Homo sapiens: one gene and its partner. The protein of the gene in region 1 purifies or fractionates together with the protein of each later gene. This does not show direct contact. Each region holds a gene or a part of one and is shown on either strand. Other genes may lie near its edges.

Evidence for each region. Proteins that work in one complex are often made in the same cells at the same time.
Region 2: the proteins of GALNT2 (region 1) and HACD3 fractionate together in Homo sapiens (co-fractionation; one large-scale study listed by BioGRID). This does not show direct contact.

Annotation. Positions count from the first base shown.
Region 1 is NC_000001.11:230,247,709-230,253,212, reverse strand, and holds part of GALNT2 (polypeptide N-acetylgalactosaminyltransferase 2 precursor), read right to left. Parts: intron 4,030-5,504; coding exon 3,942-4,029; intron 2,757-3,941; coding exon 2,653-2,756; intron 1-2,652. UniProt on the Homo sapiens protein: Catalyzes the initial reaction in O-linked oligosaccharide biosynthesis, the transfer of an N-acetyl-D-galactosamine residue to a serine or threonine residue on the protein receptor.
Region 2 is NC_000015.10:65,554,463-65,557,962, reverse strand, and holds part of HACD3 (very-long-chain (3R)-3-hydroxyacyl-CoA dehydratase 3), read right to left. Parts: intron 3,077-3,500; coding exon 3,003-3,076; intron 1,225-3,002; coding exon 1,060-1,224; intron 1-1,059. UniProt on the Homo sapiens protein: Catalyzes the third of the four reactions of the long-chain fatty acids elongation cycle. This endoplasmic reticulum-bound enzymatic process, allows the addition of two carbons to the chain of long- and very long-chain fatty acids/VLCFAs per cycle.

The DNA.
Region 1 (5,504 bases):
AGCATAAGCAGTGAAAGTTTCCGACTTTACTTTTTACAGTTCCCAACACAACCTAAGAAGTTGTCGGCTGGGCGCAGTGGCTCATGCCTGTAATCCCAACACTTTGGGAGGCCGAGGCAGGCGGATCACCTGAGGTTGGGAGTTTGAGACCAGCCTGACCAACATGGAGAAACCCTGTCTCTACTAAAAATACAAAAAATTAGCCGGGCACGGTGGCACATGCCTGTAATCCCAGTTACTTGGGAGGCTGAGGCAGGAGAATCACTTGAACCCGGGAGGCGAACGTTGCGGTGAGCCAAGAATGTGCCACTGGACTCCAGCCTGGTGACAGAGCGAGACTCCATCTCAAAAAAAAAAAAAAAAAAAAAAGAAGTTGTCTCTATTTCAGAAAATAAAATTTAAATATCCATTTGCCTCACCACAAGATTTAGAATTAGGGGCTAGGAAATCCCCTTGGCTTCTCTATGGGGAATCTGTTAAGCCAACAAGGGATCCTTCCAGGGCTTTTGTGGGAGATTTTCAAGGCTAAGTATAACTACAGTATCTTCAGCGTTGATTTCATTTGAACCCTATAACTTTGAGGATAATTACTCAGTAAAACTCAATGGCTTTTTAATTAGGCAGTTAGTGTTTACATCTTGGTTCTGAGACCCTGGGCAAGGTGTCATGACCTCTGCAGACCACACTCCGTTAAGAAAGCACAAACAGATGATTCCCTGGAAGTACTTAGCATCATCCTTGCATGACAGGGATGTAGAGAAACACAGATGATGCCCCCAAGGAGCCTTACCCCCATTGTTAGAGTTAAGGGTTAGGTTCTTGGTCCTCCATTTTAATTGCTTAAATGACATAAGGACTTACATGATTAGGAAAATGGGAAGCTCTGGTCATTCCAGCGGGGCACACGTTGAGGAGGTGGTTTTGGATCTTACTCGGGCCTCTCTGCACCATACACCTCTCCCAATGCACACCCACAGAGGCCCCTCAGGTTGGCAATGGCTAGTAGTGTGCACGGCCCCCAGAAGCAGAAGCTAGAGCAGTGCTAAGGAGAAAGGCTCACGGCATGGCCTTCTCACGTGAAGCTCTTGAGCCCTCCAAACCTCACTGGGAGTCCAAGTCCTTGGCATAACCCAGGAGAGCCCCTCACGGAGGGACAGATGCCCCAGCCTTCCTGGGCAGAGATGTGCTCCTGCTTGCAGGGTTCATCTTCACCCCAACCTGAACCGCTCAGACCCTAGAACCTTCTAGCACAGCTACATAATAAATACAAACACCAAACCACAATAAAGCAGCTCCTTACAACAAATCTACCCCCCAGTCTCTGGGTGAATGCCTCCTTAGATATGTAAATCAACACTCTTCCTACACGATGACACAAAATGCTGGCTGATGTCTCATTTCAGCTAATAGTATGCAAACTTCTGAAAACCACACTGTTTTTGAGAAATGGCCACCTACACGATACGCTGCCCTACTGGGCGACCCTGGCCTGCTGGATTTCCACTAAACCATTAGGGGATACCCATGGAACAGGGTGACAGAACTCTCTTTAGAGGGTTAACAATTCTGAAGCCTTTTGTACTCAAGTGACTTCAATCCAAGCTTTCCCTAGAGGTTAATGTATCATTTTTTTAAAACAACCCAAAAGGAGTTTGACTCACGGTCTCTCCACCCGTGCAGTATAGTAATCGAGCCTAAAGAAGCTTTCAACATCAAACCAAGGCAGAGAAATCCTCAAAGATGAGATGGTATCACTGACTTCAACATCATAAAACAATGGAAAAATAATAGGCTAGGCTAGTCTTTTCTTTTAAAGTAACAAAAACTTTCAAAGTCTCAAAACTATTAAAAATGAGTGGCCTCATTTTCCCCTTTCCTTCTCCCCTGTCCTCCAGGGTACACTCACCCAAGGACGAATGTAAGTTAACAACACTCAGCAGCCCAGGAGAATTCGCTCAGAATGTCAAGCATTTGAAACAAAAGGCTTTAATTGAAACAAGCAAAAAAGATCTCCCCCACTCCAAACCCTAAACAAACAAAACACATCTTTTCATCTTTTATGCAGTAAATATAAGGCTACCAATATAGACCACAATGTGCAAAATTTTGCTGTGCCTAAACCTGGGTAAAAATAATTTGCATGGGGTATTTAAAAACAAAAAAACAAACAAACAGAAAAACAAATGAGAACCATTCGCAAAGGTAGTCGAGAAGGGATTAAGTGCCAAGGCCTCCCTGCCCCATCGGATTTTCATGATTTCAATTCAATCAATCCCACCAGCCTCGCCGGGGTTCATTTTCCACTCTCCACCACTCAGCATGAATCTGAGCTCCTGGACTGTTTCCCTCTGTTTTTGCAAGCCTGCAACATTCCAAACACTTGGGTTCAGACGCCTTGAAAGAGTTTGCATTTCCCTTCAAAGACTTTATCCGTATTCTGGCATCCTCCACTCTAACCTAGGGAGGCACATTTTAATGCCCAACTCATGAGACTTTCAAGAGCAAAAGGGGTGTTACATATGTGTTTGCAAGGATCGATTAAGCCCAGTGAATGGTCACTCTGAAGCCTTTTAAATTTTTTTTCCAATTGGCACCCTGCCTTTTGCAGAGCTGAGGCACTTCTCTGTCCTGAGATTTGAGGCTTGTACATACCTAGGTTCTCTCCTCCCCACACATCCATCATCATGTCGTACTTCCCCAGTTCTTCAAAATAGAACTTATCCATCACAAACAGCCCACCAGCAATCATGGGGGTTCTAAAGAGGCAGAAAGAAGAGGGGGGAGGGAGGAGAGGGCAAAGTCAAGGTTAGATTGCCAGCACCCTTGCGCCAAGGCCAAGCCTTGATTCCCTAACAATAAGCTGATCTTCAGAACAGCCACACTGCCACTGTTTTCTGCTCAGTGCCCAGCATGCCACTCTCTCTGCTTCACCACTGCTGCCTTCAAATGCCTCCCCCACTGTCCCTGCCTGGATGTTCCCACAGTGCCAGGGGCTGGACTGAGCCTCCCCTATGTGGGAGCGACTGCTGGGGCTGGATCACTACTCACTGACATGCTGCCATAGGCAAAGAACTCGGCCTTTCTGTGTGTCAGTTTCCTTATAGGGTAGCTACGAGGATTGCAAAAAATCATGGGCATAAAGCCCTGAGCACGCTTAGGAAATGCTCCACAGCACCAGCTCTCATTATCACTATCATAGATGAGACTCCACCTCCTACAAGGGAACCCACCATGCTCCTCACTTCATCATCCCAGGAAGGGGTTGACAACAGATGTACACTGAGCTCCCTACTTTGTTCCCAGAAGCGATGCTGTGCGAATTCAGTGTAAAGTGCTGGGAAGGTCTATGGCACACTGCAGATGTTGGCTAAATGTCAGCAAATATATTTCAGCGCTAAGTACTCTGTGAATGCTATCTCACTTAACCGTGTGCCAACTTGGAAGAGGTGGCCCCCTTCTCTCCCCAGCTAGAGAAGGCATCCTGACTCTCAACCAGAAAGCCCACCGCCCGGCCTGGGAATCTTAAAAGCATGGGCTTCATGAGCATGGGCTCCTTCCTCTGCAGGAGAGCAAAGGCCTGCTGGGCAGTAGCAGCAGTAAGCCTCCTGCTGCCCACCAAGCCCCTTTTCCTGGGCCTGGGGTCAGCTCGGAGATCCTGCTCTGCTACAGAAACGCTCTACATTATCAACATACAGGAATGCACAGACCTAGCAGATAGGCCTTATAAACCTATGTGAGACTTCAACTGTGGAAAAGAAATCTCCAAGGATTTTATTCTATGACCTGGTGGAAGGTGCTCATCTTTGAGCTGAGACGAGGGGAAACCGGAGGGCAGAAGGTGAACAGCCCCCACTGGGTCTCCAGGCGGTGCGGGCCCAGCAAAGAAGCTGGAACCTGGGGTCTCATCTGGGAGGGGCACCCTGAAGGATGCTGGCACTTACTTTATAGGGGCGACTGGGTTCCCCTGCCGGGACCTTCTCTGCTCAGGCGTCATGTAATCCCACTTGAATACCAAGTTCCAATCAAAACCTGCCAGCCAGGAAAAGAAACAGGGTGTTGACAAGAGACTGGCCACTTCCTCCCGACACCCCCATTCCTCACAGCTTAAAAATATTCGATGTTTGGACAGAACTCAATGAAAACCAAAACAAAGCCAAAAAAGAAGGTGTGGAGGAGAGAGAAGGGGACTGGGGGCGTGGGTGTAGCTGAAGAGAGAGACCGGCAGTGAGGGTGAATGTTGAAATCTTCTCCCTGCCCCTCCCTAAAGAAAATGTGAGTCAGGCTTTTCTAATATTGAAATGCATAGGAAAAAATGAAATATGGGGAGAGAACTGGGGTCTGTGTGGTGATAACCAGGGCATGTCCAAGGGCTGTAAGGATGTGAGGAAAAAGAGCATCCAACATGAAAATCAAGCCGTGGTACCTCCAACACTGCCCCAGGGGAAGGCAATGCTGGGGAGGGAACGAGGCTTTGTCAGTTCCCTGGGCCAGCAAACTTCAGACTGTATTTGCAGCAAGAATGGAGTGGGAACATGCTGGGAATATGAAAACTTTAAGGGAAAATGAGCCAGCGGAAGTTGCCAAGCTGGGCAAATAAGCTTCAATTTCAGATATATTTGGCACCTGTTGCATTTCATTTTTGGAATCCACAGACCCCTGAGGATAGAAGAGCCTAGACCCTGTACCCGGACTTGGTTGTGGGCATCTGCAGGGCCTCAGGTCTCGCTCTTGCTCCCAGGGTCACACACATAGTGCCTCTTGGAGGCCAGCAGGCTCCACCTGCGGAAGCTGTCCTGGTGCATCAGGAGGCCACTTCTTGGCAAACACATGGCTCATGGTGCTGCATTTCCAATTCCAAGGGTCTGACAGCAAAACCTAATGACTCTAGGGCATGCATCTTTCAATCCTCTTAAGCTCTCTGCCATCAGGCTTTTTGTCAACAGGGCTTTTGCAATGCCTAAGTTTGGATTTGTCTGCATGCTTTGAATTCATAGTCTGTCCGCCCTGACAGCCCCAGTGACTGAAGGATGGCGGGTGAGGGTTTCTGAGTGTCCTGGGCTGGCCAAGAATTTATGGCTCTGGACAAAGAGGCCTCCCAGCTCCCTCACTGCAGGATAGAGTGGCCTCAGGCAAAGAGAGAGGGAAATGGACAGGGGCCCAGGCAGTGGGGACAGAAATGCACAGAGAGGAGACCCCTGCGGGCCCCTGAGCTGGCTCTTATCATGGTGCCTCAAAGGCCACGAAGGAAAACCAGAAAAACAATGTCCTGGCTGTTTCACTAACAGAGAAGGTTAAGGATTAGCTGACATAACCTTTCCTTTGTTTTTTTGATGTTTACTATTATCTTATTATTTATTTTATTAATTTGGTCCAAAGAGAGAGGCTATAGCAGATTAAAGATCTGTTAAGAATGGCATCCTTGATTTTTTTTCTAAAGGAATTTCATAAAATGCTCTTAGGGTGAACGTGGCCCCGTTCCTCTGACCCAGAAGACCTGCACCCCC
Region 2 (3,500 bases), on another chromosome or scaffold:
GTGCTCAAAAAAAAAAAAAAAAACAGTCCCATAATGATGGCGCTTTCTCAAAAAGATACAAAAGCCAAATGAAAGATGGGCAGGATGAGGACATAACCAAAGGCCAGTTAGTGCCAAAGCTGGAAGAATTTGAGCAACAAAATAAATAATATTAGATTATAACTCAAAGTATAAAATAAATACCCATGTACTCACATGATATAAATGATTGAATAAATAAATGGGAGACAATAGACATGCATAATTATTCTCCTATGCAGAAGAATTCCAAATAAATTATGTAGATACTCCCTCCATCTAAAGGACAGGAAGCATAACTCCCTGCTCCTTAAATGTAGGCTACACATAGTGACTTCCTTCCAAGGAGAGCCAAGAGGAAAATAACCTTATGGTAGAGAAACCTGATAAGCGTCACCTCAAGCCAGCTAACCCATGGTTAATATCAACAGTGATGTGTCACGTTGACAGTATGTACTTTTTTTTTTTTTTTTTGAGACTCTCGCTCTGTTGCCCAGGCTGGAGTGCAGTGGCGTGATCTCGGCTCACGGCAAGCCCCGCCTCCCGAGTTCACGCCATTCTCCTGCCTCAGCCTCCTGAGCAGCTCCGACTACAGGCATGCACCACCACGCCCGGCTAATTTTTTGTATTTTTAGTAGAGACAGGGTTTCACTGTGCTAGCCAGGATGGTCTCTATCTCCTGACCTCGTGATCCACGCACCTTGGCCTCCCAAAGTGCTGGGATTACAGGCGTGAGCCACCGTGCCCGGCCGTATGTACTCTTGATATGATGTGATAAGAATTGCACTTTACTTCAGTGGTCTTCTCCTCAACATCTATCACCTTAGTCTAGTTGTAAGAGAAACATCAGACAGATTTCAACCGAAGGAAAGTCTATAAAATACATAGCCAATACTTCTTGAAAATCACATCACCAGGTCTTTAAATGAATTTGTAACTTTGTAGCTATTCTTTCAGACCGAGAGGTATCTGAAGTGGCCTGAATAACGTGGGTTCCCCATGATTTGTCCTCAATGGCTAGATCCTAGGATCCTTACTAACCTTAGCTCTGAGCTCCATTTCCGCATCAGATTCATCCAGCCAACGATCAAAGTCAGGAGCCAAAAACAGTGGTCGCTTTTCCTGCTTTGTGAGTCTCTCCCACCACTGACTCACTTTCTTCTGTACTGTAATGTTTACCTGCCTCTGGGTCAGTTTGTAAACAGGCTAGGAGAGAAAGTGAAAATGTGAGAATGCCCTCTTCTGTTCCCTGAAGCAGCACCATGCCAGGGGCGCCGTACATAGAAGCTGCAGGATATATTTATTCTCCTTCTTTCTCTGGTCCTGCAAGTCCTGATGCAAAGGGAACATCTAGACCAGGGGTCTCCAACTCCTGGGCCATGGACTGATACTGGTCCATGGCCTGTTGGGAATCGGGCCACACAGGAGGAGCTGAGTGGTGGGCAAGTGAGTGAAACTTCACCTATATTTAGACTCGCTCTCCATCACTTGCATTACTGCCTAAGCCCTGCCTCCTGTCAGATCAGCATTGGCACAAGATTCACATAGGAGCGTGAACTCTATTGTGAATTGTGCATGCAAGGAATCTAGGTTGCTCACTCTTTATGAGACTATAATGCCTGATGATCTGTCACTGTCTCCCATCACCCCCAGATGGGACTGTCTAGTTGCAAGAAAACAAGCTCAGGGCTCTCACTGATTCTACATTATGGTGAGTTGTATTCATTATATATTACAATGTAATAATAACAGAAATAAAGTGCACAACAAATGTAATGCATTTGAATCACCCTGAAACCATCCCCATTCCACCATCTGTGGAAAAAGTGCCTTCCACAAAATTGGTCCCTGGTGCCAAAAAGGTTGATCTAGACCAACGGCTGGCATGGAGAACTGGTAAGGACATAATGTCCTTCTCTGATTCCCCCAGTGAATGATACAGGAGGATATCAGGATAAGAAAGGCAAATAGTTCCTGGTTAGGCTGGAGGGAACTAGCATGAACCTCCTGCCACAGCCACATCATGCAAGGTACTATGTCCAATCACCCTCTCAAGGGTACTGCATCCAATTACCCTCAGCTTATAAATTTTCCTCCCATGAAAATGACTGTCCTGGCTCAGCAGACCCCGGTTTTAGAAACACCTGCATCAAGATCAGAACTGTATTGGATCAGTTACAGATTTTTTCACAGGGGTCAATTTGGGGAGTCTTCCCAACTAAACTCAAATTCTTATAGGCCATTCCAGCTCATTGTTTGTCTACATGTCCTGTCCCTTTTCTCCAAAGGAAGCTCCATGACAGGTTCTCTGCCCACTGTACCACTGGTTATTATTCATGCTTTCTCAAAACAACTGAGCACCTGCGCACGGAAATCAAGAAGCTCAAGCCACCAGAGCTAAGTGTAATTCCAGAAGCCAAAATACCCCATCTATTGGATTCTCTCCCTGCTTATGAGAGAAGCTTCCTCAGGCTCTAAGGGAAGGGAAGTTTTGATGATATCTGCAGCATTCTTTCTGAAGGCCAGCTGCCTTCACCCTTTCTGATTTCTATTTTTCTCACCTGCAACTGTGGCAAAGTCACATGAAAGTAACCCCTGGTGGGGGCTTCAACCACTCTATGTAACTCTGTTCTCAATGGGTGCCATATTCCTCTGCCATCACTAAAACCAGAGAATATCAGAGCTGGAAGGATCACTTAGTCCAGACCTTCATTTAACACATGAGAACACCAGAACTCGAAGAAGTTAAGAGACTTGTTCAAGATCACACTGCTAATAAATGGCAGGGCCCTGACTCAACTTGGGGTCTCTGACTTTCCCATTCCTCTGCAGCTAAAACCTGGGCTCTGTTCCAAATAAAAGAACTCTATTATTCCCCTTTGGTTTTTATCTTCTTCTCTCCACAAACCCTGCTCCCCATTTCACTAAACTACTGGTATTCATTTCCTAAAATGGGAAGGGAAGTGAGAAAGGAAAGAACATACCTCTGGTTTCACAAGGTCTAAGAACTCCAGGTGAAATTCATAGACATTGTCTCCTTTGGCACCATGTCCTTGAGCTATAAAGAAAGAAATGTGGGTTACTGCAAACTTGAGCAGAGCAAGGCCATCCAAAAGCCAGCTTGGTGCAGTTCTTTCCCAAGTATGCGAATATTACACTTTTTTTTTTTTGAGACAGAGTCTTGCTCTGTTGCCCAGGCTGGAGTGCAGTGGCATGATCTCGGCTCACTGCAAGCTCCGCCTCCCGGGTTCATGCCATTCTCCTGCCTCAGCCTCCCGAGTAGCTGGGACTACAGGCTCCCGCCACCATGCCCAGATAATTTTTTTTATTTTTAGTAGAGACGGGGTTTCACCGTGTTAACCAGGATGGTCTCGATCTCCTGACCTTGTGATCCACCCGCCTCAGCCTCCCAAAGTGCTGGGATTACAGACATGAGCCACTGTACCTGGCACGAATATCATACTTGATTGTAGCCAAAAGGC